7 linked regions of the Homo sapiens genome follow. The protein of the gene in region 1 interacts with the protein of each later gene in a biochemical or structural test. Each region holds a gene or a part of one and is shown in the gene's direction. Other genes may lie near its edges. The genes, in order: PPARG, HDAC4, CDC34, LRIF1, NFE2L3, HMGA1 and HDAC3.

Evidence for each region.
Region 2: the proteins of PPARG (region 1) and HDAC4 form a complex in vitro, tested with the Homo sapiens proteins (2 studies listed by BioGRID).
Region 3: the proteins of PPARG (region 1) and CDC34 form a complex in vitro, tested with the Homo sapiens proteins (2 studies listed by BioGRID).
Region 4: the proteins of PPARG (region 1) and LRIF1 form a complex in vitro, tested with the Homo sapiens proteins (one study listed by BioGRID).
Region 5: the proteins of PPARG (region 1) and NFE2L3 interact in a test that uses a peptide from one of them, tested with the Homo sapiens proteins (one study listed by BioGRID).
Region 6: the proteins of PPARG (region 1) and HMGA1 form a complex in vitro, tested with the Homo sapiens proteins (one study listed by BioGRID).
Region 7: the proteins of PPARG (region 1) and HDAC3 form a complex in vitro, tested with the Homo sapiens proteins (3 studies listed by BioGRID, with this or other methods).

What each region holds. Positions count from the first base shown.
Region 1 is NC_000003.12:12,292,070-12,295,569, forward strand, and holds part of PPARG (peroxisome proliferator-activated receptor gamma), read left to right. Parts: intron 1-3,500. UniProt on the Homo sapiens protein: Nuclear receptor that binds peroxisome proliferators such as hypolipidemic drugs and fatty acids.
Region 2 is NC_000002.12:239,111,021-239,114,520, reverse strand, and holds part of HDAC4 (histone deacetylase 4), read left to right. Parts: intron 1-2,808; coding exon 2,809-2,995; intron 2,996-3,500. UniProt on the Homo sapiens protein: Responsible for the deacetylation of lysine residues on the N-terminal part of the core histones (H2A, H2B, H3 and H4).
Region 3 is NC_000019.10:538,260-541,759, forward strand, and holds part of CDC34 (ubiquitin-conjugating enzyme E2 R1), read left to right. Parts: intron 1-418; coding exon of another isoform or gene 419-731; exon of another isoform or gene 732-777; intron 778-3,079; coding exon 3,080-3,293; 3' UTR 3,294-3,500. UniProt on the Homo sapiens protein: E2 ubiquitin-conjugating enzyme that accepts ubiquitin from an E1 ubiquitin-activating protein, and catalyzes its covalent attachment to other proteins by an E3 ubiquitin-protein ligase complex. In vitro catalyzes 'Lys-48'-linked polyubiquitination.
Region 4 is NC_000001.11:110,950,423-110,953,922, reverse strand, and holds part of LRIF1 (ligand-dependent nuclear receptor-interacting factor 1), read left to right. Parts: intron 1-1,107; coding exon 1,108-2,635; intron 2,636-3,500. UniProt on the Homo sapiens protein: Together with SMCHD1, involved in chromosome X inactivation in females by promoting the compaction of heterochromatin.
Region 5 is NC_000007.14:26,183,198-26,185,417, forward strand, and holds part of NFE2L3 (nuclear factor erythroid 2-related factor 3), read left to right. Parts: intron 1-503; coding exon 504-587; intron 588-1,335; coding exon 1,336-2,220. UniProt on the Homo sapiens protein: Activates erythroid-specific, globin gene expression.
Region 6 is NC_000006.12:34,235,740-34,239,672, forward strand, and holds the start of HMGA1 (high mobility group protein HMG-I/HMG-Y), read left to right. Parts: upstream 1-1,133; 5' UTR 1,134-1,142; coding exon of another isoform or gene 1,143-1,224; exon of another isoform or gene 1,225-1,464; coding exon of another isoform or gene 1,465-1,578; intron 1,579-1,675; coding exon of another isoform or gene 1,676-2,641; intron 2,642-3,051; exon of another isoform or gene 3,052-3,218; intron 3,219-3,933. Other genes in the region: translation initiation factor IF-2-like, read left to right, coding at 507-517, 836-991, 1,143-1,224, 1,465-1,578, 1,676-2,641. UniProt on the Homo sapiens protein: HMG-I/Y bind preferentially to the minor groove of A+T rich regions in double-stranded DNA. It is suggested that these proteins could function in nucleosome phasing and in the 3'-end processing of mRNA transcripts.
Region 7 is NC_000005.10:141,630,350-141,633,849, reverse strand, and holds part of HDAC3 (histone deacetylase 3), read left to right. Parts: intron 1-3,500. UniProt on the Homo sapiens protein: Histone deacetylase that catalyzes the deacetylation of lysine residues on the N-terminal part of the core histones (H2A, H2B, H3 and H4), and some other non-histone substrates.

The sequences.
Region 1 (3,500 bases):
ACCTCAATAACTTTGAGATTGTTAAGATTGAAGATGATGCTTCTCATGTGGTGATCAATTTATAAACTGTTTCTGGGAATATTTTATTATCATTCAATTTAAAATTGTATTTTCCATTCCCTGATGACTTTGGACAAAAATCAGCATAGTAATTATTTTTATTCCAGCTTTGCGAGTCCTGTGTAGCCCCTCTTATGTTAATATTATACATCCGATGCATCTAGAAGGCACAGATTGTGCGCTTTGATTTGATAAAGCTCTAGTCTTTGCATATCTTTATGGCACACCTTGTGAATTCTTAACGTATATTCCCCAGGAGCAAGTTCGTTTTATAATGAGGCCTAGGATCCATCAGATCAGAAGACAGTTTAGTGTCACAACTTAAAAGACTAAATAGTGACTTGTGCTTGTCATTAAAAATGGGTCTCTTTCAACAAGCACTCACCAAAAAATAGTGTTTTAGTGGCTTGAAAGGTTCAGATATCTCCTAATAACCCACCTATTTGCTAGTAGGGAGTAAGTGGAAAAACATATAATTAACTGTGCACCATCCAAATAATAAATTTTAAATTCTTCGCGTGAATTGTTGATACATATTGTTGTGAAGTGTCTCCTGCTTAAGAAAGTAAGGGACTTGGACTGAATATGCCAAAGAGGAGGCCTCTGCAAGCGGTGTCTTGGTGATGGGAAGTTACTGGTAACAGCACACGGGGTGATGGGGTGAAGAGGCTTGTGTGCGTGGGCCCCGGGGGCTGAGGATTGTTGGAGAGGACTTCTCCCACCTTCTCTGGGCCCCAAACTGCACACTGGACTGGCAAGCCACTCTGCCCACTGCAGTGTGGAGCTATAAAGCCCAAGTAGGGACTTCACTAAAAGGATGCAGAGGCGAAGGCAAAGAAAGGCTCATGCTGGTGCGTGTAGGTGGGCTGAGTGTCCCTGTCCGGGAGTGGGGAGCCGTGTTATCTTCCACTGCCTTAATCCTACAGCGTAGGCTTTCTCAGAGTCATTGCCATACCTTCAACTGTTCCAGTGGCCAGGCTGTTCTCAACTTGAAAATCTTTTGTGGGACAGTGCCATGAATTTTTTTTCCTACTGCGATTTTTTAGATATAAAGGAATTGAATCCATTAAGTGGAGATTTTAAACCCTCCAGTCAGGATTTAAACTAGATTGTGTAAGTTCAGTTCAGTTGGATTCAATATCTGTTTAGGAAGCATTTTTATTCCACTTCATTGATTTTAGAAAATAAATTCATTGCTTGGTTTTAACTATGTCACTATTAAAAAAAAACCACTTTAATTTGTGGACTCATCTGGGAGGATTATGTGTGGATATGACATATTGAGTCAGATTATCTGACCTTCTGAGAAGAGTTCAGATTAGCAAAAACGTGGGGTGAGAAGTCCTTCGCAGTTTGCCACAGGTAAGGAGAAGGTAGATATGAGGGAGGTAGAGAAATAGGGAAATACCCTGAGTAGGAATGTACCAGGTCTGTATATGCTCAACTCCCACAGTCAGCAGGTTGCATGATTACTGTGTATAGTCTTAAAATATAAGGTTGATTTCTAAGAATTTACCCTGCTTCTTGGTGACATTGTAGGACATCTCAGTTTGCCACTTAGCACTGTTATTCTTTCTGGCTCTATACTAAAGGAGATAATTTGGGCAAGGGAATGGAAAGAGGTTACTTTTTCATCCTGTATGTTTAAGGAATAAATTTTCCTTCATATCGAGGGCAGTGGAGAAATATAACTGTCAAACTGTTCGAGTGCAATGATGAAGTTCCGGAAGGAACTTCCTAACCTTGACCACACCCCTCTGGCTGTCATACACCTCTTAAAATGTCTTTGAATTTGAATGTCTTTGAATTGAAATTTAAAATGTCTTTGAATTTGAAAGCTTTGGGTCTACTTTTAAAATGCCAAAGTTCCTGGCAGGGTTAGTTCACTAAACCACTATCAGCAAAAATGTGAAAGGCTAGTTGCTTGTTTCCTTGCTACCTGAAAACAAGGCCTTTAAGGAGTAGAAAACAGATTTGGAGTTTGAAAGAGGGGGTTAGGAGAGGGAAAAATAAAGTTAATGCATGTCCCAGTTTCCTCATAAGCCAGAAACTTTGAAACAAAATAGGAAAATAACCATTTGGAATAGCAGTGATAGGAAAAGATATATTTACCCATCATTTTTTTTCTCTTAGTCAAGACAAGTCGCAGATCTTCCTTGAACCATTTTTGACCTCAAAACAGTTATTCTGAAACATCAATTAAACTAAGAAATGTAATCACAGTTCAAGTTATGAGCTAGTATTATCTTAATGTAATTAAATATCTGAATATTATCACTTCATTATATCTTGTATTTCCTCTGTGATGTTAGACAAATTATGTGGTCTCTTCATGAGTCAACTCTTCCAGGCTTTAAAAGTAGCTTCCTAATAGATTGAAATGAGAGGAACTTTTCAATCACTTCAGAAAATGATGTGCCAAGGTAGTATAAATAATGCTTAATCCTTTGGCAGATCCACAGATCATAAAATATCATACATGCGGCCAGTCGCAGTGGCTCACGCCTGTAATCCCAGCACTTTGGGAGACAGAGGCAGAAGGATCACCTGAGGTCAGGAGTTTGAGACCAACCTAACCAACATGGAGAAACCCCACCTCTACTAAAAATACAAATTAGCTCGGCATGGTGGCACGTGCCTTTAATCCCAGCTACTCAGGTGGCTGAGGCAGGAGAATCGGTTGAACCCGGGAGGCAGAGGTTGCAGTGAGCCGAGATCACGCTATTGCACTCCAGCCTGGGCAACAAGAGTGAAACTCTGTCTCGAAATAATAATAATTATTATTATACATACTTAATTTTATTTTTGCTGAAAATAGTATGGCAAGCCAGTGCATCTCTGTTAGAAATAGAAACTTAGTAGCCACCTCAAAAGCAAGGTCATAATTCTGTGAATCAGCTAATAGGTGGTATTTAGCAGTTAGGTATGGGCTACCCTCGTGCCTCATGACTAATCACATTGCTTACTCGTCATGCATTTTTTACAAAGTCTTGCTAAAGTCTGTGAATCTAAAACAGAGAATCTCAAAGTGTTCCTTACTGAATGTTATCCTTTCCGTCAGTTGATAATTACCTGTGTAAACAAGCTTTTGACTGCATCTAGAAAAGCACCTATATAAATTCTTCTGTTTTATATGGTGGATAAAGTTTATAAAGGAGAACAAACATAAGAATGATGTCAATATAAATGAAGTAGAAACTTCAAAAATCATTTGCATATGTCAAGTATAATCCAGAAGAGTGAAGAAAATACCCAGGCATTTGGCAATATAGGATTACTACATGTTTTCCTAAAGAATTTGGAACTGATTAGAAACATCCTGATTTTATTTAAAAGCAATATAATGTATTTTTACAGTTTGTTTTCAAGAAGGTTCAAAAAAAAATTTTTTTTTTTTTTTTGAGATGGAGTTTCGCTCTTGTTGCCCAGGTTGGAGTGCA
Region 2 (3,500 bases), on another chromosome or scaffold:
AGAAGGCCAGTGAATGACTGGTTAATTTCCATTGAAACATTAAACTTCTGAGTCAGCAGAAATACCTAAGGCATTTGGGCAGCCAGCTGGAGCCCCGTATCTGCAGCTAGAGTGCCCTCAGGAAAGTGGCTTCCTCCCTGTAGGCAGGAAGCCAGTCCGAGGAACCACAGCTCTGTAGGATTTGATTCTATCCTCCAGCAGCAGAGCTGCTGCCTCGGCTGCAGGAGCCACTGGCTCGTTCCCTCCCTTCTCTCTGGACTCCATGCCGGCCGTGCCGTTGAGCACCTCCCCAGCTTCCTGACTGCCAGCTGTGTGGCCAGACGCTGCATCTCCACCCCCAGCAGCACCTTGGAAGCCAGGAGCAGGACGCCCTGCAGTAAACTGTTCCCCTTAATTCTCAGCTACAGTTCTTAAATGCTTGCCACTGAATGAATCAGTGTGGGGCCTTGTACCTGGAGCACCTAGACCCAAGCCTGCCACACACGGGATCAGTGCTCAGTGGTCTCCAGAGGCTTCTGGGTCAGGAGCCCTTCTCCACCGAGCTTCCCCCAGTGGCTGGCATTGGGTGCTATTTCTCCTTCTTGTTCAGAGGGGGGCCTGTCTCTAATTTCTGGGCCTTCTTAATTAGCACCCCGGGCACTAAACACTACAAAGCCCAGCAGAACTAACGCTTGGCAAAGACAGAGAGAGAAAGCCCCGGGCCTCTCTGGCACACACACGGTGCTTCATGGTGAACACTCGTCCACAGGTCCTGTCCGACAGGCCCAGGGTGGGGGCCTCTTCCTGTGGTCGGGCCTTGTAAGTTGATGAAGATCTGAAATTCAGTGTGCTATTATTAGGCTGATAAGAAATGGGAAACTATTTACATTAATAATTTTTAGGGCTAGTTTCTCATAGATCAGCCTTTACTTTGAGAAAAAGAGGCTTGTTATATTCCAAGCATGAGATGATTATTAGAAACACTTATTTTCTGTTCTCTCTGGAGAGTAATAGGCAGAACCCCTTATCAGGGAAACGTCGTAGTACACGGAGCAATTTGCCGAGGTAAACATAAGGCGGGGCACCTCCAGCCCGCGTCGGGGAGGATTGCTTATTAACCACTTAACCGCGTGGGGCCCACGGCAATCCCAGCTGAATTTGGTCAGCAGCAGACTGGGGGCCTGTGGGTGCTGGCTCCTGCTCCAGCTCCTGCTGCAGCTCCTCCCACTGTCTCAGGGCTTCCTTCTTCTCTGCTCCCTCCTGGCTCTGATTCCTTTTGTGTGTGTGTGTGTGAGACAGAGTCTCACTCTGTTGCCCAGGCTAGAGTGCAGTGGTGCCATCTCAGCTCACTACAGCCTCCGCCTCCTGGGCTCAAGCAATTATTCTGCCTCAGCCTCCCAAGTAGCTGGGATTACAGGCACCCACCATCACGCCTGGCTAATTTTTTGTTTGTTTGTTTGTTTTGTTTGTTTGTTTTTTTGGAGAGATGGGGTTTCACCATTTTGGCCAGGCTGGTCTCGAACTCCTTACCTCAGGTGATCCACCCGCCTCAGCCTCCCCAAGTGCTGGGATTACAGGCATGAGCCACCACGCCCAGCCTGATTCCTAAAGGCAGGACAGATCGGAGCCTGGCCGGGTAGCTCTGGTTTCCCCCAGTGCTGGCAGCACAGGGCTGGGCTCTGCCTTCATACAGGAGCTGGGATGTAGGTACCTGGTTTTCCATGTTCACAGGATTTGTTCATCAAAACTAAGACAGGATTGGCGCAGAGCTCCCAGCAAGGAGGCGCCCGGCTTTCTTTGTGCCTCGGCCTGGGTGGCAGGTTGCTGTGCTCTCCCTCAGCTGCTGTCTGGGGAGAGGCTTGGCAGCTGTGACCTCATCTCTGCCCTGCTCCCTCCACTCCACTCTGCCTCGTATGGGGGTTTGCACCTCAGCCTGTTCCCAGAATCCCTCAGGGTGTCCCAGGCCCCTGGCTGAGTGCCCCCCCCACACACAGAGCCCAGCCCAGCTCCATCTCATCAGAGAGGCACATCCCCACCAGCAGGCCTGCTCTAGGCCCCAAAGGTCCTGGGTGCCCAGAAGCTGATGGGCTGTTACTGCTTTTAGCCTGCACGAGGGTGTGTGGGATGTGAGACCAGGGAGGGGAGCGGCTGCAGATGAAGCCCAGTTGGCACTTTCAAGTCTGAGAGCCGATGGTGCTTTCTCGCCCAAGTTTGGCATGCAGATTCAATGCTGTTGGTCAGAACTAAGACCCACAAACCCAACAAGGGGGTTGGGCTTCGTGCCCACTCACCGTATGTGTGTGGTATGGCAGAGTGGACGCTGTGGTCCCCACATCTACATGGCCTTCGCATATCCCCCAGTGAAACCAGCGAGGGCCAGGCTGCCGCCCCAGCAAGAGCTTCTCTCCACACCTGCCAGGCCCTACTCCCCTGCACCTGCTCCAGGCTGCTCCTGGCTCAGCACCTCCTCAGAGAAGCCCTCCTTGATACCCCATACTGGGCCAGGCCTCCCTGGGACCCCCTGACTCAACCTGTGTTATCCTGTTAACGTAACCCATGGCAGGATCCCACGTGGACAGCCTGCCTTCCCTAGAGAGACCGTCCTGGGAGGCAGAGCCTGTGCTGGCCTCGTTCTTGGCTCTGGGCCCACTCAGGCTTCAGGGCACTCACAGGGAAGGCCTCTCCACGCAGCTGGCCTCCCGGCATCCTTGTGGCCCATGTATGGCCTGTGCGTGGACGGGAGACTTGCAAGAGAGGGCAACCCCTAGCCCTGCAGCCCAGGGGCGGGAGACATCCGCAACCGCCAACACGGCCGTTTCTTCCCCGCAGCAAGCCCTCCTGCTGGAGCAGCAGCGGATCCACCAGCTGAGGAACTACCAGGCGTCCATGGAGGCCGCCGGCATCCCCGTGTCCTTCGGCGGCCACAGGCCTCTGTCCCGGGCGCAGTCCTCACCCGCGTCTGCCACCTTCCCCGTGTCTGTGCAGGAGCCCCCCACCAAGCCGAGGTTCACGACAGGTAACACGTGGCCTTTGTGCAGCCTGAGGGTGCAACGCGGGCCACAGTGGGCACAGCGCGGGGGGCTCTTCCCGGCCCAGCTCTGCAGAGGCTGAGGAGGGGCTGGGCAGGCACGAGGGCCACGCTGGATGGTGGGGACCACACAGGTCTGTCACAGAGGCCCTCTCCCCGCCCTACACCCCACACCTTCAGTTCTGTCATGCTGGGGACCTGTCACGGGCTCACTTGCCCACTTTCCTGTCCCAGAGACCCATGGTCTCCTCCAAGAACAGTCCACAGCCCATGCCCGTGGGGCCATGAGAACCTACAGCTTCTGGTCCGGCTCAGGAATCATGAGCCCACGCTTCTCCGCTTACTCCCTCACACTTCGCCCACGTCCACAGCGTTGACGCTGAGGCTCCAGTGACAGGGCTGTGAATGGCTGGCGGGGGGCTGTGATTACACGAGAGCAGAGCCCGGGACCCCTGGGACACGCTGTGGGAGCCACACGTCCTCTGTCTGTGCC
Region 3 (3,500 bases), on another chromosome or scaffold:
GAGCTCTGGGTACAGCTGTGCAGTCGCCTACCGGCGCCTTCTGTACCTGCAGTCCACTTAGCTTGCGTGGCTGTGTGTGGTGACCCACGGCTCTCCCTCTCCTCCCATCGCCCTCATGCCCCAGAGCTGAGCCCCACAGCCCCTTCTCTTGGGTGCCTGTGTTCACATGAATGTGTAAACACGTGCGTGTCTGTGTACAAAGACAAGGCTTTCTTTACGGGTTGACGGCCTTAATGGTTCCTGCTCTTCCTGTTACATAGAGGCCCTTCCTATCCATTTTTTTTTTTTCTCAGAGTGATATTGCATAGATTTCCTCACAGAGGCCTCACCTATTTTTGTTGGTATTTTGTATAAACAGAATCTTAAAAACAACTTTTAAAATATTGCACACATAATGCATGTGTCTTCCTCGCCCCAGGACCCAGGAGCATCCAGGGCACCTTCCATCCTGCACTCGCTGGTACCTGGTGTCGTGGGGTCATCTCGGGGCAGCATCCTGGTGCTGGGCGGTCTCGGCTCTGAGCAGCCATGGTGGGCGGGCCCCGTGCGGCCTCCTGGGAAGTGGCCTGCAAGCACCTGCTGGCCTCTGGAGGTCACAGGGTAGCTGCCCTGGCCGTCCCTCTGGTGCAGATGTCCTCGGTGGCCCCGGTCCGGTCGTGTCACCTGGCCCAGGTGGCTGGCTCCTTGGCCCGGTTCTTCCCGGCCACCTCCCTGAGGCACCACCTCCTTGAGATCCCAGCACAGAAATAAAAGCCACACTATTTTTATCCCTCAAAACTCCCTGTGGGCCAACACACATGTGCCATGTGGACTCTGCTGTGGTCGCCGTTTCTGCCTGTTTTTTCATCTGTGTGCGTGTTGGCCTCGTGGCAGCCCAAGTCCCGCTGAGCTGTGTCGGGCAGGCTGCCGTGGAGCCCGGCTTGGTCAGGGATGTTGGTCTTGCTGAACAGGACCTCCAGACCGTCCTCCAGCTCATGCTGGCGGTGTGCCGGCGGCACCTCCACGGTGCAGGTCAGTTCCCACCCTGGCCCTCCCCTGCGTCTCCCCACAGCCGCCACCTCTGCGGTGCCGTCCCCGGGGCACCGTCACCCCCCCAGCCCGTCCACCCTGGCCCTCCCCTGCGTCTCCCCACTGCTGCCACCCGTGCAGTGCCGTCCCCGGGGCACTGTCAGTCACCCCCCCAGCCCATCGGAGAGCTTGGAAAGCAAAGCTTGGCGTCCGCTGGGTCCCGCCACCCAGGGACGTCCCTGAGGCCAGACGCCTGCCCTCCACGCGTCATGCATCCCCATAAAAAGCACTGGGCTTGTGGGCTGGGCTTGGGGCTGTCTGTCTGCTCCCTGGTGCCCTCCCATGCGGGCACTGTGGGACCCGCACACCCTGGTAGCAGCCAGCCCCAGAGCCCAGAGCCGTGCCTGGTCGGTGATAGGGGCTCGAGCCCATTGCCTGCGGCTGCAGCCTCGTTCCTGTTTTCTGTCAAATGGGGTCAGCGTGCCGCCTGGCCCTGCTGTGCCACCCCCGGAAGCCCCTTTGCTTCCAGTCCTGGGGGGACATTCTTGACGCGTGTCCTGGAGGTGGAGCCGGGGGCAGGTTCCTCGTAGGTCCTGGTGTGCGCGGTGCAGCCCCTCATAGGGCCGGGTGTACACGGTGCCCTCCAGGAAGTTTGAGCTAACTTGTCCTCCCTTCCTGCCAGAGGCTGGGATGGCCAGGCCCCCCAGGTTTAGAATCCGGAGGCCGGGGTGGCCAGGCCCCCAGGTTTAGAATCCGGAGGCCGGGGTGGCCAGGCCCCCCACGTTTAGAATCCGGAGGCCGGGGTGGCCAGGCCCCCCAGGTTTAGAATCCGGAGGCCGGGGTGGCCAGGCCCCCCACGTTTAGAATCCGGAGGCCGGGGTGGCCAGGCCCCCCGGGTTTAGAATCCGGAGGCCGGGGTGGCCAGGCCCCCCGGGTTTAGAATCCGGAGGCCGGGGTGGCCAGGCCCCCCGGGTTTAGAATCCGGAGGCCGGGGTGGCCAGGCCCCCCGGTTTAGAATCCGGAGGCCGGGGTGGCCAGGCCCCCCGGGTTTAGAATCCGGAGGCCGGGGTGGCCAGGCCCCCCGGGTTTAGAATCCGGAGGCCGGGGTGGCCAGGCCCCCCGGGTTTAGAATCCGGAGGCCGGGGTGGCCAGGCCCCCCGGGTTTAGAATCCGGAGGCCGGGGTGGCCAGGCCCCCCGGGTTTAGAATCCGGAGGCCGGGGTGGCCAGGCCCCCCGGGTTTAGAATCCGGAGGCCGGGGTGGCCAGGCCCCCCGGGTTTAGAATCCGGAGGCCGGGGTGGCCAGGCCCCCCGGGTTTAGAATCCGGAGGCCGGGGTGGCCAGGCCCCCCGGGTTTAGAATCCGGAGGCCGGGGTGGCCAGGCCCCCCGGGTTTAGAATCCGGAGGCCGGGGTGGCCAGGCCCCCCACGTTTAGAATCCGGAGGCCGGGGTGGCCAGGCCCCCGGGTTTAGAATCCGGAGGCTGGGATGGCCAGGCCCCCGGGTTTAGAATCCAGAGGCTGGGATGGCCAGGCCCCCCGGTTTAGAATCCGGAGGCCGGGGTGGCCAGGCCCCCGGGTTTAGAATCCTGCTGAGGCCACGGAGAGGCTCAGGCCGTTTTTGCGTTTCCCATCTCACCTGTGCTGGTTCCCGTCTCCAGGGATGGTCCTGCCTCCTGTCCTTGGGCCCTCCCAGCTGCTTCCTTTGCTCCTGCGCTGAGGAAGGCTTTTGCCCCCCAGTGGGGCAGCATGGGCCCTCCCTGTTGCCGGCATCGTTATTTTCTCCCAGCTCCTGATGGGTCCCTTGGGTTGTGCTTCGGGGCGGGGCAGGCGGGTGTGACTGCACTGCGCCCGTCCAGCCTCCCACCCGCACCTCCTGCCCTTCCCGAGCCCCCTCCTCTGTCATTTCTCCCCCTGGAGTTCCTCACGCACAGGGCTTTGTCCTAAGTGGTCGCCACACGCCGTTTTAAGAGAAACCTGAGCGTTGGGGTGAGCGTCGGACCTGGGGGAGGGGGGCCGGGCAGGGGCCGAGTCCAGGCACGTGGGTGGCGCCCTCACCCACCCTGTCCCCCCAGGAAGCAGGTCCTGGGGACCAAGGTGGACGCGGAGCGTGACGGCGTGAAGGTGCCCACCACGCTGGCCGAGTACTGCGTGAAGACCAAGGCGCCGGCGCCCGACGAGGGCTCAGACCTCTTCTACGACGACTACTACGAGGACGGCGAGGTGGAGGAGGAGGCCGACAGCTGCTTCGGGGACGATGAGGATGACTCTGGCACGGAGGAGTCCTGACACCACCAGAATAAACTTGCCGAGTTTACCTCACTAGGGCCGGACCCGTGGCTCCTTAGACGACAGACTACCTCACGGAGGTTTTGTGCTGGTCCCCGTCTCCTCTGGTTGTTTCGTTTTGGCTTTTTCTCCCTCCCCATGTCTGTTCTGGGTTTTCACGTGCTTCAGAGAAGAGGGGCTGCCCCACCGCCACTCACGTCACTCGGG
Region 4 (3,500 bases), on another chromosome or scaffold:
ATACCATGAAGGAAGCTAACAAGCATAATGTTATGGATTAATTATGAAGGAAAGACAAGGATAAAGTGGTCAGAAAATGTATCTCTTGAGAAATATCATTTATGCCAAGACTTGAGCTATGTGAAGAGTTGAGTTGGGTGAGGCGTACCTAGGTAGAGTGATAGTATGTGTGACATGAAAGCTCAATATTTCCCAGGAGCTGAAAAATGTTTTAGATATAAATAAGGTAAGGTATTTACATTCAAGTAATCTCCAAATAACTAATTATGCAAACAGAGATTAGTATATATTGATTTTTCTTAAGATTAGACAGTCTATACTAAGAAATAATTCAAGGCATGGGGGTCAGAATTGATTCAGTTAAAAAAAATTGATTTCCAGTCTGTTCCACATTGATTGAAAACCATTCAGCTGAAATTGCAGTGGTATTATATGTATGGGTTGATAGGTGATTGACAATTGACTAATATAAATAATTGCTATACCAGAGACTATGTAGCACTAAACCTCAAATGTGCTGAAACAGTAATCAGAAGAAAATGATTCCTATGTAAACAGTTCAGTGAAATCTATAGCACAAAAATGTGGCAAACTAAGGTAACACCATGAGAGATAGCTTAGGCAAAAGAAGAATGGCTGGCAGAACTTGTGAGTTATTGAAGGAAGAAGACAGAACAGATTGAGGGGGAAAAGAGAGAAATGGAATAAGAGTAAGGGGAGAGGGAATGAGAATCTTCAGTTAGAGTAGAGGAGGAGGACAAGAGGAAGGAATTCAGGGAAAGGGGGAAGGGAGGATGCTAATATTTTAAGAGGAGCTTACTTTAGTAGTATAATTTTATATAGGGCAAAACCTTAGAAATGTCTACTTTTAGTCTTAGGAATAAATGTTATTATCTCATACCCATTGCCTAATCATATAAGCAGTTGACTATATCATTATCTCTTCTACTTCAAAATATTTGTTTTGCAGTCTTTCACTTTAAAAACTCAAAATGGAAAATTATATACTTTATTTTAATATTTACAAATATTTACAAATATTTATTTTTAAATAAAATGTATATACCATGTAGTATGTTGTATTTATTTACTCAATGTTCTTTTAAGTGTTTCAGGCTGCATGTACCAAGTAGTTCAGACGATTGGCTCGGATGGAAAAAATCTTCTGCAATTACTTCCAATTCCTAAGTCTTCTGGAAATCTTATACCACTAGTTCAATCTTCAGTCATGTCTGATGCTTTGAAAGGGAATACAGGAAAACCAGTTCAAGTTACTTTTCAGACTCAGATTTCCAGCTCTTCCACAAGTGCATCAGTTCAATTGCCCATTTTTCAGCCAGCCAGTTCTTCAAACTATTTTCTTACAAGAACAGTAGATACATCAGAAAAAGGTAGAGTTACTTCTGTGGGAACTGGAAATTTTTCTTCATCAGTTTCTAAAGTTCAGAGTCATGGTGTGAAAATTGATGGACTCACCATGCAAACATTTGCTGTTCCTCCCTCAACACAAAAAGACTCATCTTTTATTGTAGTTAATACCCAGAGTCTTCCAGTGACTGTGAAGTCTCCAGTTTTGCCTTCTGGGCATCATTTACAGATTCCAGCCCATGCTGAAGTGAAATCTGTACCAGCGTCATCATTGCCTCCTTCAGTGCAGCAAAAGATACTTGCAACTGCCACCACCAGTACCTCAGGAATGGTTGAGGCCTCCCAAATGCCAACCGTTATTTATGTATCTCCTGTAAATACAGTGAAAAATGTAGTTACCAAGAACTTTCAAAACATTTACCCAAAACCTGTTACAGAAATAGCAAAGCCAGTAATACTAAATACCACACAAATTCCAAAGAATGTTGCTACAGAGACACAATTGAAAGGTGGTCAGCATTCTCAAGCTGCTCCAGTGAAATGGATTTTCCAAGATAATCTACAGCCTTTTACGCCATCTCTTGTTCCTGTTAAGTCTTCAAATAATGTGGCTTCAAAGATTTTAAAAACTTTTGTAGATAGGAAAAATTTGGGAGATAATACTATAAATATGCCACCATTGAGTACCATCGATCCTAGTGGGACGCGATCCAAAAATATGCCTATTAAAGATAATGCTTTGGTTATGTTTAATGGGAAAGTCTATCTGTTGGCTAAAAAGGGGACAGATGTTCTGCCATCACAAATTGACCAACAGAATTCTGTTTCTCCTGATACTCCAGTAAGAAAAGACACGTTACAGACAGTGAGTTCAAGTCCAGTCACAGAAATATCCAGAGAGGTTGTAAATATTGTTTTGGCTAAAAGTAAATCTTCCCAGATGGAGACAAAATCACTTTCCAATACCCAGCTTGCTTCCATGGCCAATCTAAGGGCAGAGAAGAATAAAGTGGAGAAACCATCTCCTTCTACCACAAATCCACATATGAACCAATCCAGTAACTACTTAAAACAGAGTAAGACTTTATTCACAAATCCAATCTTTCCAGTTGGATTTAGTACAGGACACAATGCCCCCAGAAAAGTAACAGCCGTCATTTATGCTAGAAAAGGAAGTGTCCTCCAGAGCATAGAGAAAATAAGTTCCTCTGTTGATGCAACAACTGTTACTTCACAACAGTGTGTTTTCAGAGACCAAGAACCAAAGGTAATTTTCCCATGTCAGGGTGCTCTTTTTATATATCTATATAGAAAAGTTTGTTTTCTTAATTCTCAAAGTTATCTATGATACCTCTTTCCCCCACTGCCAACCCCATCACACACAGACTATACACATATGAGTATTTAAGTCAAAACTTCCATCTGAGCAAATTTGAGGAGGAGTACAGTTGGGTACAATCTTGTACAAAGGAGTACAGTCTTTCTCTTGAATCACTTGGCATGCCAAATCTTTAAAACAAAAAATTCACAGAGCAAAAAGGTTTAGAAGAGTTGGGGAAGGATAATGTGAATTCAAAGCTTAGTAAAAATATGTGAGTATATGTATATACATACATGTATATATGTATGTTCATATATAATAGCCTTTTTAGTATATGAGGAGATCAATATGCATGTAAAAGAGTTGGTTTTGGGGTTTTGTGGGGTTTTTTTGTGGTGGTGGTGGTGGTATACCATGGAAAAGGTGAGACAGGGCTAATCAATACCTTTCAGTAATTTGTGGAAATAAGATTTTATCAGCATCTTTGATGGGTTGATTTTTTTTTTGGTAGACAAATTTCATTTTCCTTTTTATTAGCTCTTTGTGACTCCTCAGCCAGTTACCCAACATGCCCACATAGTTACCTTTATGTTCGACTTAAGGTTTGTCTGTCTGTGTGCTTACTAGATATTTGTACCCATCTTTTCCTTGCTTACTTAGAGGTCTACTCAATAATGTCAGCATTTCTCCCCTTCAGTACAGAATTCATTGAACTCCAGAGATGTAAGGAGGTAAATTCTGATTGTTCAATACAAGATCGATTAAAGGCATGTGTGACTTTTCCAGAAGACTACAATTTCTAAATAATGTC
Region 5 (2,220 bases), on another chromosome or scaffold:
AAATACTGATTAGCTTTGGACTTTTAAGTATGCATGTTGAAATACTGAGTACCATAATCAGAGAAATAGGTCAGCTGCAGTGGCTCACGTCTGTAATCCCAGCACTTTGGGAGGCCTAGGTGGGTGGATCACTTGCGGTCAAAAGTTCGAGACCAACTTGGCCAACATGGTGAAACCCTGTCTCTACTAAAAATACAAAAATTAGCCAGACGTGGTGGTGCACAGCTGTAATCCCAGCTACTCCGGAGGCTAAGGCAGGAGAATCCTTTGAACCTGGGAGGCAGAGGGTGTAGTGAGCCGAGATTGCACCACTGCACTCCATTCTGGGCCAGAGTGAGATCCGTCTCAAAATATAATAAAAAGTAGAACTTCCAACCAAGGAACATAATAGCATAAAAATCCAGTGTGGAAATAATACCTGGTGATCCTTTAAAGATAAAGCCTAAAGCCCCAACCAGTTCAGTCTTTTATGTGAAAGATGCACTTTTTGTGTTTCTCTACAGAGACATCTGAATGGGACAGATACTTCTTTCTCTCTGGAAGACTTATTCCAGTTGCTTTCATCACAGCCTGAAAATTCACTGGAGGTAATTGGAACTTTGGCTTTTATCCTCGCAGGAACATATCTGCACTGACCTTTTGGTGAACAAATACAACTCCTTTACTTGGATGACACAGCAGTTTAAAGTAATGCTTATTTTTACAGAAGCACTTCAGCTTAGAATTAACCAAATATGTATAGCATTCCTCTTTCCAAATAATCCCAAAGGTATAATCAAATTTAGACTAGTCATGGAAAACAGCGTGGAGATTTCTCAAAAAACTAAAAGAATTATCAGGTATTTATCCAAAGGAAAGGAAATCAGTGTATCAAAGGGACACCTGCACCCCCATGTTTATTGCAGCAATATTCACAATAGCCTTGTAGTTTTAGCGCTTAGAGGCATTTAAACAGCCTCTCTCCTCCAGACTACTTCACTGTAGTTTATTATCCCTGACCCTCCACAATGTGATTACCAACCGCTAGGATGAGTTGCATCTTATTATAAAGTAGCAAATTACAAGATTGTAACATTAGACTTTTTAAGAAAATCCAGTCAGCTTTTATACTAATCCATCTTAATTTCTAGGTTACTCAGAATTCCAGGTATTCTGATTTGGACTCACATCTCGTATTGTATTGCCTGTATTTAACTAGGAAGTTACTGCCAACAGCATCTATCTCTATTAAATGTAGAGGAATTGACAAAAGAGGGGAAAGAAAGTTGTTAGGTAATAGAACTGCTTCAGAAATAGGGCTATTCATGTTTGAAGTGTTTCTCCTTCGTTTTTCAGGGCATCTCATTGGGAGATATTCCTCTTCCAGGCAGTATCAGTGATGGCATGAATTCTTCAGCACATTATCATGTAAACTTCAGCCAGGCTATAAGTCAGGATGTGAATCTTCATGAGGCCATCTTGCTTTGTCCCAACAATACATTTAGAAGAGATCCAACAGCAAGGACTTCACAGTCACAAGAACCATTTCTGCAGTTAAATTCTCATACCACCAATCCTGAGCAAACCCTTCCTGGAACTAATTTGACAGGATTTCTTTCACCGGTTGACAATCATATGAGGAATCTAACAAGCCAAGACCTACTGTATGACCTTGACATAAATATATTTGATGAGATAAACTTAATGTCATTGGCCACAGAAGACAACTTTGATCCAATCGATGTTTCTCAGCTTTTTGATGAACCAGATTCTGATTCTGGCCTTTCTTTAGATTCAAGTCACAATAATACCTCTGTCATCAAGTCTAATTCCTCTCACTCTGTGTGTGATGAAGGTGCTATAGGTTATTGCACTGACCATGAATCTAGTTCCCATCATGACTTAGAAGGTGCTGTAGGTGGCTACTACCCAGAACCCAGTAAGCTTTGTCACTTGGATCAAAGTGATTCTGATTTCCATGGAGATCTTACATTTCAACACGTATTTCATAACCACACTTACCACTTACAGCCAACTGCACCAGAATCTACTTCTGAACCTTTTCCGTGGCCTGGGAAGTCACAGAAGATAAGGAGTAGATACCTTGAAGACACAGATAGAAACTTGAGCCGTGATGAACAGCGTGCTAAAGCTTTGCATATCCCTTTTTCTGTAGATGAAATTGTCGGCATGCCTGTTGATTCTTTCAATAGCATGTTAAGTAGATATTATCTGACAGAC
Region 6 (3,933 bases), on another chromosome or scaffold:
CTGACCGGGGAGGAAGAAGGGGAGCAGAGAAAAACATGAGTCACAGCCGTGTGTCACTGGAGCGCATTTCAATTCCCTGCATCACAGGAGGTGTGGAAGGCCGCCTCGGGGACCGGGCGCGGGAGGTGCGCCCGAGAAGGCCCCGGGCCGGCCTGCAGGGCGCGCCGCTCCGCCTGCGCCCTTTCCTCCCCCACCGCCCTCCCCGCCATCTTCCCCTTTGGCTTCCTTCTCGCTCGGTGCAACAAGTCTTTGTTAAGCCGGGCGCCGGGCGGGCCAGGCGTGGCGGAGATGGCCTGCGTGCTCGGCCCCTGCCCTCAAAGCGCTTCCAGGCGACCTCTGGCCCACCTTTTATTTTTATTTACAGTCCCAACGGAAGGGCCCAGGTCCCCAAGTGGGCCTGCGTATCTCCAGAACACCATCTAAGTCACCTCAAGGTATGAAGCCTCCCTTGGGTGTACCTGCCAACGAGCCAATCGTTGGTTTCGCTGGAAGGCTCCACCTTGATCATGGCTCGCTGGTGGCCATTAATAAAACACTTTGGATTTCACAAGTTTCACGTTTGAATTTCACAAGACTTGTATCTCACCAATCAGCCACACGCGGGTTGACACTGAAAGGCACATGCTGACACCTGTCCGCCCAGGGGAAATCTACCATCTCTCTATTTTAGTTAGGGGGCGGCGTGTAGGCCGCGGAATTCTCTAACGAGCGCGTTTCTCTTCACCCCCTGGGCCCGCGTGGACCCCCGTCCACCCCCACACGCCCTGGGGGGGGGGCCGGGCCCACACGCCCTGGAAGCCCCTAGAGGTGACTCTCCCTGGGACCCCTGTACCAGGGAGGAAGGATACCGCCACCCGTCACCACCCCCCGCCAGAAGCTCCTTCGTGACTCCTCTGCGCGTGCCTTCCCACACCTCCTCCGTCCGGGACTGCGAGGAGTGGGCGGTCGACTCGAGTTCGCAGCCCAGGCCTCCCACACGCCCCTCCCTGCCGTCAGCACCCACCCGCGCGGCAGCGGCGGCGGCGGCTGGCGGGCGGCCGCCCTTTTAAATCCCCGGGCTCATTTGCATGGCCCCGCCCCCTGAGTGACACGGCTGGCGCGGGCGGGCCCGTCCCCCCTGCCCCTGGGTCGCTCTTTTTAAGCTCCCCTGAGCCGGTGCTGCGCTCCTCTAATTGGGACTCCGAGCCGGGGCTATTTCTGGCGCTGGCGCGGCTCCAAGAAGGCGTGAGTTCGCGGCCGCTCCGGTGGCTTCTTTTTTTTATATCTATAATTTAATTAAATTATTTATTTATTGAGGCCGCGCACGGGCCGTGCCCAGCTTCCTGCCCCTCGCCATCCTTCGGGGGAGGGGGAATATTTTTGTCCCCCCGCCTGGCTGTGACACATAAATACCCCGCGGGGGCCTGGGCGGCGAGCACGCGGCGGCGGCGGTCTCTGAGCGCCTCTGCTCTCTCCCGGTTTCAGATCCGCATTTGCTACCAGCGGCGGCCGCGGCGGAGCCAGGCCGGTCCTCAGCGCCCAGCACCGCCGCTCCCGGCAACCCGGAGCGCGCACCGCAGGCCGGCGGCCGAGCTCGCGGTGAGTCGTCCCCGGGGCCCGCGGCGGCGGCGGCGGAGGGGGGCGCCCGCGCCCCCGCCCGCACGTCGCCCCTCCTGCGAGCCGCCCGGGGCTGCAGCGCGCGCCGCCGGCTTTATTCCCAGGCCGGGGCGGCGCGAGCCGGCGGCGGGGGAGGGCCGCGCGGCGCGGGGGCGGGCGGCGGGGCCCGGCGGCGCGGGGAGGACGCCCGCACCCCTTCCCCCGCGCCGCGGGCGCCCTGCGGGGGGCGGGGACCCGGGAAAGGCGCGCGGTGGGGGAGGGGGCGCGCAGCTGCGGCGAGCGCGAGTTGTGCACCCGGCGGAGCCCGGAGGAGCCCGGCGCACCTCGCGCGGCGGCCGCTCCCGCTGGAGCCGGAGCCCGAGCCCGAGCCCGGGCCCGGGTGAGGGGCGGGGAGAGACACGGGCTGCGGCGCGGCAGGAGAGTGGGGGGTCGGGCGCCCCCCGCAGCTCAGGGAAGTTCTGGAAGTGAGGGAGATGGGGAGGAACCCCCAAATTCGGCCCTACGCCCTCTCGGCCTTTCTCTCGCGCCCCCTCCGCAGATGAGGCCGGAGCGCGGGCCTGGGTTTGGGGCTTCACCCCGACCCCACCTCTGGCCTGGCCCGCGCCTCTTCAGCCCCAGGGGCCGGGCCTGCCCTCCGCCCCCACAAACTGGTTTCGCTGCTTTGCTGGGCTCTGTTGGAACTAGTCCCTTTGACTCCCCGTTTCTATTTTATTTTCTTCTGGGGCTTTATTTTGCGGGGAGGGGACGGAGGGAGGGGGCTTTCTTCCTCTCCCCCGCGCCCGCGCGCGCCAGGTTTCCTGCCCCAAGGCGGGCTTGGGTGCCCCCTCTGGCAGGAAGTGGGGCCGGGTGCACCCGCGTGGCGGTGCATGCGGTCGGGGTGCGCTGCTTTCCCGCGCCTGCAGGAGCGGCCTGCGCCCCTCCCCCCGCGCGCCCTGGCCCCGGGTCCCGCCGGCCGGCCTGCAACGGCCGGGCGCAGACACTTGCAGAGTCACCCTCGGGCCGGGTCTGGAGCCTGATGCCTCGGGGGTTTAGCCCTAGCCGCTAGGCGGGTAGGCAAAGTGTCGGGTTGAAAGGGTCTCCGGGAACCTACTTCTTCCTGCTCGCCAACTTGCTGTGTGACCTTAGGCAACTCAAGGCTTCTCTGGGCTACTTTTTTACGGGGGACGGGGAAGAAAACAAGGGAACCCCCAAGATAATTTCCTAGGGCCTTTCCTGCAGAGTCCTTAAGTATTTGAGGAGCACAGTTTGCATGCACAGTGTATGGAGGAGACAGGCTTGAGGCCCAAGCGGGCTTATTACAAAGTGAGGGATTGGGGTTAGGCCCTAAATGTAGTTCCTCCAAGACAGGCCTCTGATGTTCAGAAACAGGTGGAAAAGACGAACGTTTCTTGGCCTCACTGGAAAGGGCCTCGGGCCTTCATTTAGTTCGTGGGGGGTTGGCTGAGGGGATTAAAGGGTCCCCAGCAGCAAGAGGTGGGGGGAGGCACCAGATGGTATGAGAGCTTCCAGGGAGACCCGCCAAGATCTCCAGGCAGGCCGGGCCAGGCTCTCTGGGATTCCGGACTGGCTTCGCCCAACTGGAACCCCCTCGATGAGGGGGCCCCAGGCAGACCTTATATGAGGTCAGCACTCGTTTAGTTGATTAATTTTGATGTTTAGTTTGAAGGGGGACCTGTGGTGTAATATAAGATTCTAATCACTGCCTGTAATTGCAGAGCAGGCCAAGCCACTAATGACGGAGCAGGATAAATCACCAACCACCTTGTTTAAAAGGGTCTCCAAGTCTGAAACATTATAAGATAGAATAATTACCAAAGTCCTGCTGTCTGGAGGGTCTCTTGATGCTTGAAAATGGAGGTCCTGGGCCCTCTAGAAATCACAAGTTTGCAAAAATGTTTTTTTCCTCTCATTGGGGTAAAAACTCTTTTTCTTCTTTTTTTTTTTTCTTTTAAATTAGACATGGGAGTCCCACCGTATTGTCCAGGCTGGTCTCGAACTCCTGACCTCAAGCAGTCCTCCTGCTTTGGCATCCCAAAGTGCTGGGATTACAGGCATGAGTCACCTCACCTGGCCCATAAATCATTTTCAAATGGTCTAGTTCTTATTTTGGTTAGAGTGAAGATTTCTTTCTATTATTTTAAGTTTTTCTAAACTATTACCTAGTTTGATCCTTGAAGCAGTCAGGAGGTAGTTCAGGCAGGTACCTTATAATTACCTTGATCTTACAGATTGAGAGGGGTTCAGAAGTGGAGCCGCTTGTCCCACCCCTTACCATGGCAGGCAGGGATTGGTTACTGGAAAAATGTGTAGCCTAGGCCTCCGGCGTCTCATCCATCT
Region 7 (3,500 bases), on another chromosome or scaffold:
CTTTTTTTTTTTTTTTTTTTTTTTGAGACAGAGTCTCACTCTGTAGCCCAGGCTGGAGTGCAGTGGTGCAGTCTTGGCTCACTGCAACCTCTGCCTCCTGGGTTCAAGCGATTCTCATGCCTCAGACTCCCGAGTAGCTGGGATTACAGGCGCCTGCCACCATGCCTGGCTAATTTTTGTATGTTTAGTAGAGATGGGGTTTCACTATGTTGGTCAGGCTGGTTTTGAACTCCTGACCTCAGGTGATCCACCAGCCTCAGCCTCCAAAAGTGCTGGGATTACAGACGTGAGCCATCGCACCCAGCTGAGCAAGTGGCCACTCTTACTTCATCTATACTCCCTCATGTTAGATTGTTTTAAAGCAGATCCTAGATGTTATATCCTTTTATCCATAAATATTTTATTATGTATCTCTAAATGATACTCTTTTAAAAAAACATAGTATCATTATCAAACCTAAAAAGTTAACAGTGATTCCTTAATGTCATCAAATATGGGATCAATATTCAAATTTCTGCAGTTGTCTCATAATTATTTTGTAGCTAATTTAAATCCAGATCTAAACAAGGTCTATACAGTGCATTTGGTTGATATGTCTCTTAAGACTTTTAATTTGTAGCTTTTCTGTCACCCCCTTGAATTTATTTCTTGAAGAAACCAGGTTGTTGATCCTGTAGAATTTCTTATGATAGCTACCATTTACTGAGTGCTTACTCTGCTAGGTATTATGCCAAGGGTTGCTGGTAAATCCACTTAATTCTCATACCAATCCTTAGATGTATTATAATAGACCTTTTTCTGATGTTATATATAAGTAAATTGAGGTTTGGGAATATCTAGGTAACTTAGCCGTAGTCACATAACTGGTCATTGGAGGGGGCATGATCCAGATCCCGGGTTTTTAAACCACTAATCTGTTTTCCTGAAAGATCTTAATGACAGAAGCAGCCAGGGCTGTAGGATAGAGGCCAACTCATTAGGCTGGCATTGGCACCTTTCCAACTTTATCCCTACACCTCAGCTGCACAGGATGCCTTCCTGGAATGCCCTTAGTTCTCTATTCAACCTCTTCAAGGCCTTCTCAGCCTTCACACCATCTCCATGAAACCTTTCTTGACCACACCAGCCCATAGAGCTCTGTCTTGCACACACTGCACTGCTCATTTGGTGTTCAGTCACATGCTGTTTGGGGAGGTTTCTTGTTTTTTTGTTAGTATTCCTGCTGTTATTTCTGAGCTCACTTTCTAGCTCTGTGAATACAGGGTCAGCCCTTACGCCACACTGGGGTCCCGTAGATGCTCTTTGTGCGATTAGGGAATGCTAATTAGAATACTATCTCTGGGCTATTTATGCTGCATCAGTCTTCCTGTCAAACAAGTTACAGTTGTGCTTATCTGTATTTCCGATGAGAATCAGGAATTTTTCTTCTGTTTAATGAATTTCTGATTGGTTTCAAAGTATTCTAACATAAGTAGCCAAATTGTACTATAGGCCTTTAAATGAAAAAAATAAAAAAGTAGTCCCAAGCCGGGCGCAGTGGCTCACGCCTGTAATCCCAGCACTTTCGGAGGCCGAGGCGGGTGGACCACCTAAGGTCAGGAGTTCAAGACCAGCCTGGCCAACATGGTGAAACCCCATCTCTACTAAAAATACAAAAATTAGTCATGTGTGGTGGCACGTGCCTGTAGTCCCAGCTACTCCAGGAGGCTGAGGCAGGAGAATTGCTTGAACCCGGGAGTTGGAGGTTGCAGTGACCTGAGATTGCACCACTGCACTCCAGCCTGGGCAACAGAGTGAGACTCTGTCTTAAAAAAAAAAAAAAAAAAAAATTCCAGACCTCTCCTTTTCACCCATAAATCCCTCTGCCCAGTGACAGCCACTTTCAGCTCCTTTCCCCTATGTCTTCTGGTATTTACCTTTGGATTTCTAAATAATAATATTAATTGACTGTTATTACTAATCTGTAATCCTTAGGTAATACCTGTTATATACTAGGTACTGTTCTAAGTGCTTTACAGCCATTAGCTTATTTAATCTCAACAACCCCTATGAAGCAGGGTCTATTATTGTTTCCTTTTACCGATGAGGACACTTAAGCACAGAAAGGTTAAACAGTTTGTACAACCTCACTATCATTAGTAGGTGTTAAAGAACCTAGGTAGTCTAGCTCCAGAATCGGTGCTTGTAATCATACTCCCCTCCTGTATTGTCTCTCATTGCTATTTCTTCGTCTGTCAATTTTAGGCATTATCTGTTAAGCTTTTAGTATGGGATATGAGCATTTAGTCTTCTTACACCATCACATTGGCTTCCTTTCCCCTTTCAGCTTCATAGTAATTTAAAAATAAATCAGTATTCTGTGTTTACATTATTATAACTCTGAAAGATTCATTTACTATCAAGCCAAATAGTGTAGTGTGATTTAATCTATTTTCTTCTAAAGCTTTTTGTTTTTCCTGGAGCTGACAATTGCATTATTTTTTCATTTGCTTAGTTTTCTGGTATTAATCACTAATTCTTTCCAAGCCTTTTGAGAAACTATAAAACCCTACAATTCTTGCTTGAACCCGGGAGGCGGAGGCTGCAGTGAGCCGAGATCGCACCATTGCACCCCAGCCTGGGCGACAGAGCAAGACCCCATCTCAAAAAACAAACAAACAAAAAACCCCTACAGTTCTGTTTTTCACATGGTCAAATGTATCAGCTGCACTATTTTTTTTTTTTGAGACCTAAAACTAGGGATTGCCTAAGCCTTTCCTTTTTAAAAAGTCAGGTTTATATAGGTATAACTTGCATACAGTAAAATTAACCTTTTTTAGGTGTAAGAGTTCTGAGAGGTTTGATAGAATATATCAAGGTATAGGGCCAGCGCCGATGGCTCACACCTGTAGTCCCAACAATTTGGGAGGCCAAGGCGGGAGGATCACTTAGGCCCAGGAGTTTGAGACCAGCTTGGGCAACATAGTGAGACCCTGTCTCTACAAAAAAAAAAAAAAAAAAGGTATCAAGGTACAGGAAATTTCCACTACCCAACAAAGGTCACTCACCCTTTTGTAGTTAATAACTTCTCTGCAACCTAGATCCAGCCAACTACTGATAAGATGTCTGTCCTTGTATTTTACCTTTTCCAGAATGTTACATAAATGGAGTCATACAGTAAGTAGGCTTTTGTGTCTGGCTTCAAGCCTTTACTTTTTATAAAGAATAACAATGGTAATAATTATAGCTGACATTTATTAAAGGCTGAGCGGATACTGTATACTGTGCTACAGGCTTTTCGTGGGTTATCTCATCACTGTTTCACATATGTAGGTATACAGTTCTTTCTTTAAAATATGTGACTGAAAAATATTATTGAACATTATGCTAAAATTTGTTACACTGAGAAGACTAAGAAAAACAGAGCTCATGTTTTCTTTCAACTGATTTCCTTTTTACATTGTACTTGAGTACCTGGAAGCTGCTTGCTTCTTTCCGCAGCTAGGATACAAACTCCCTGA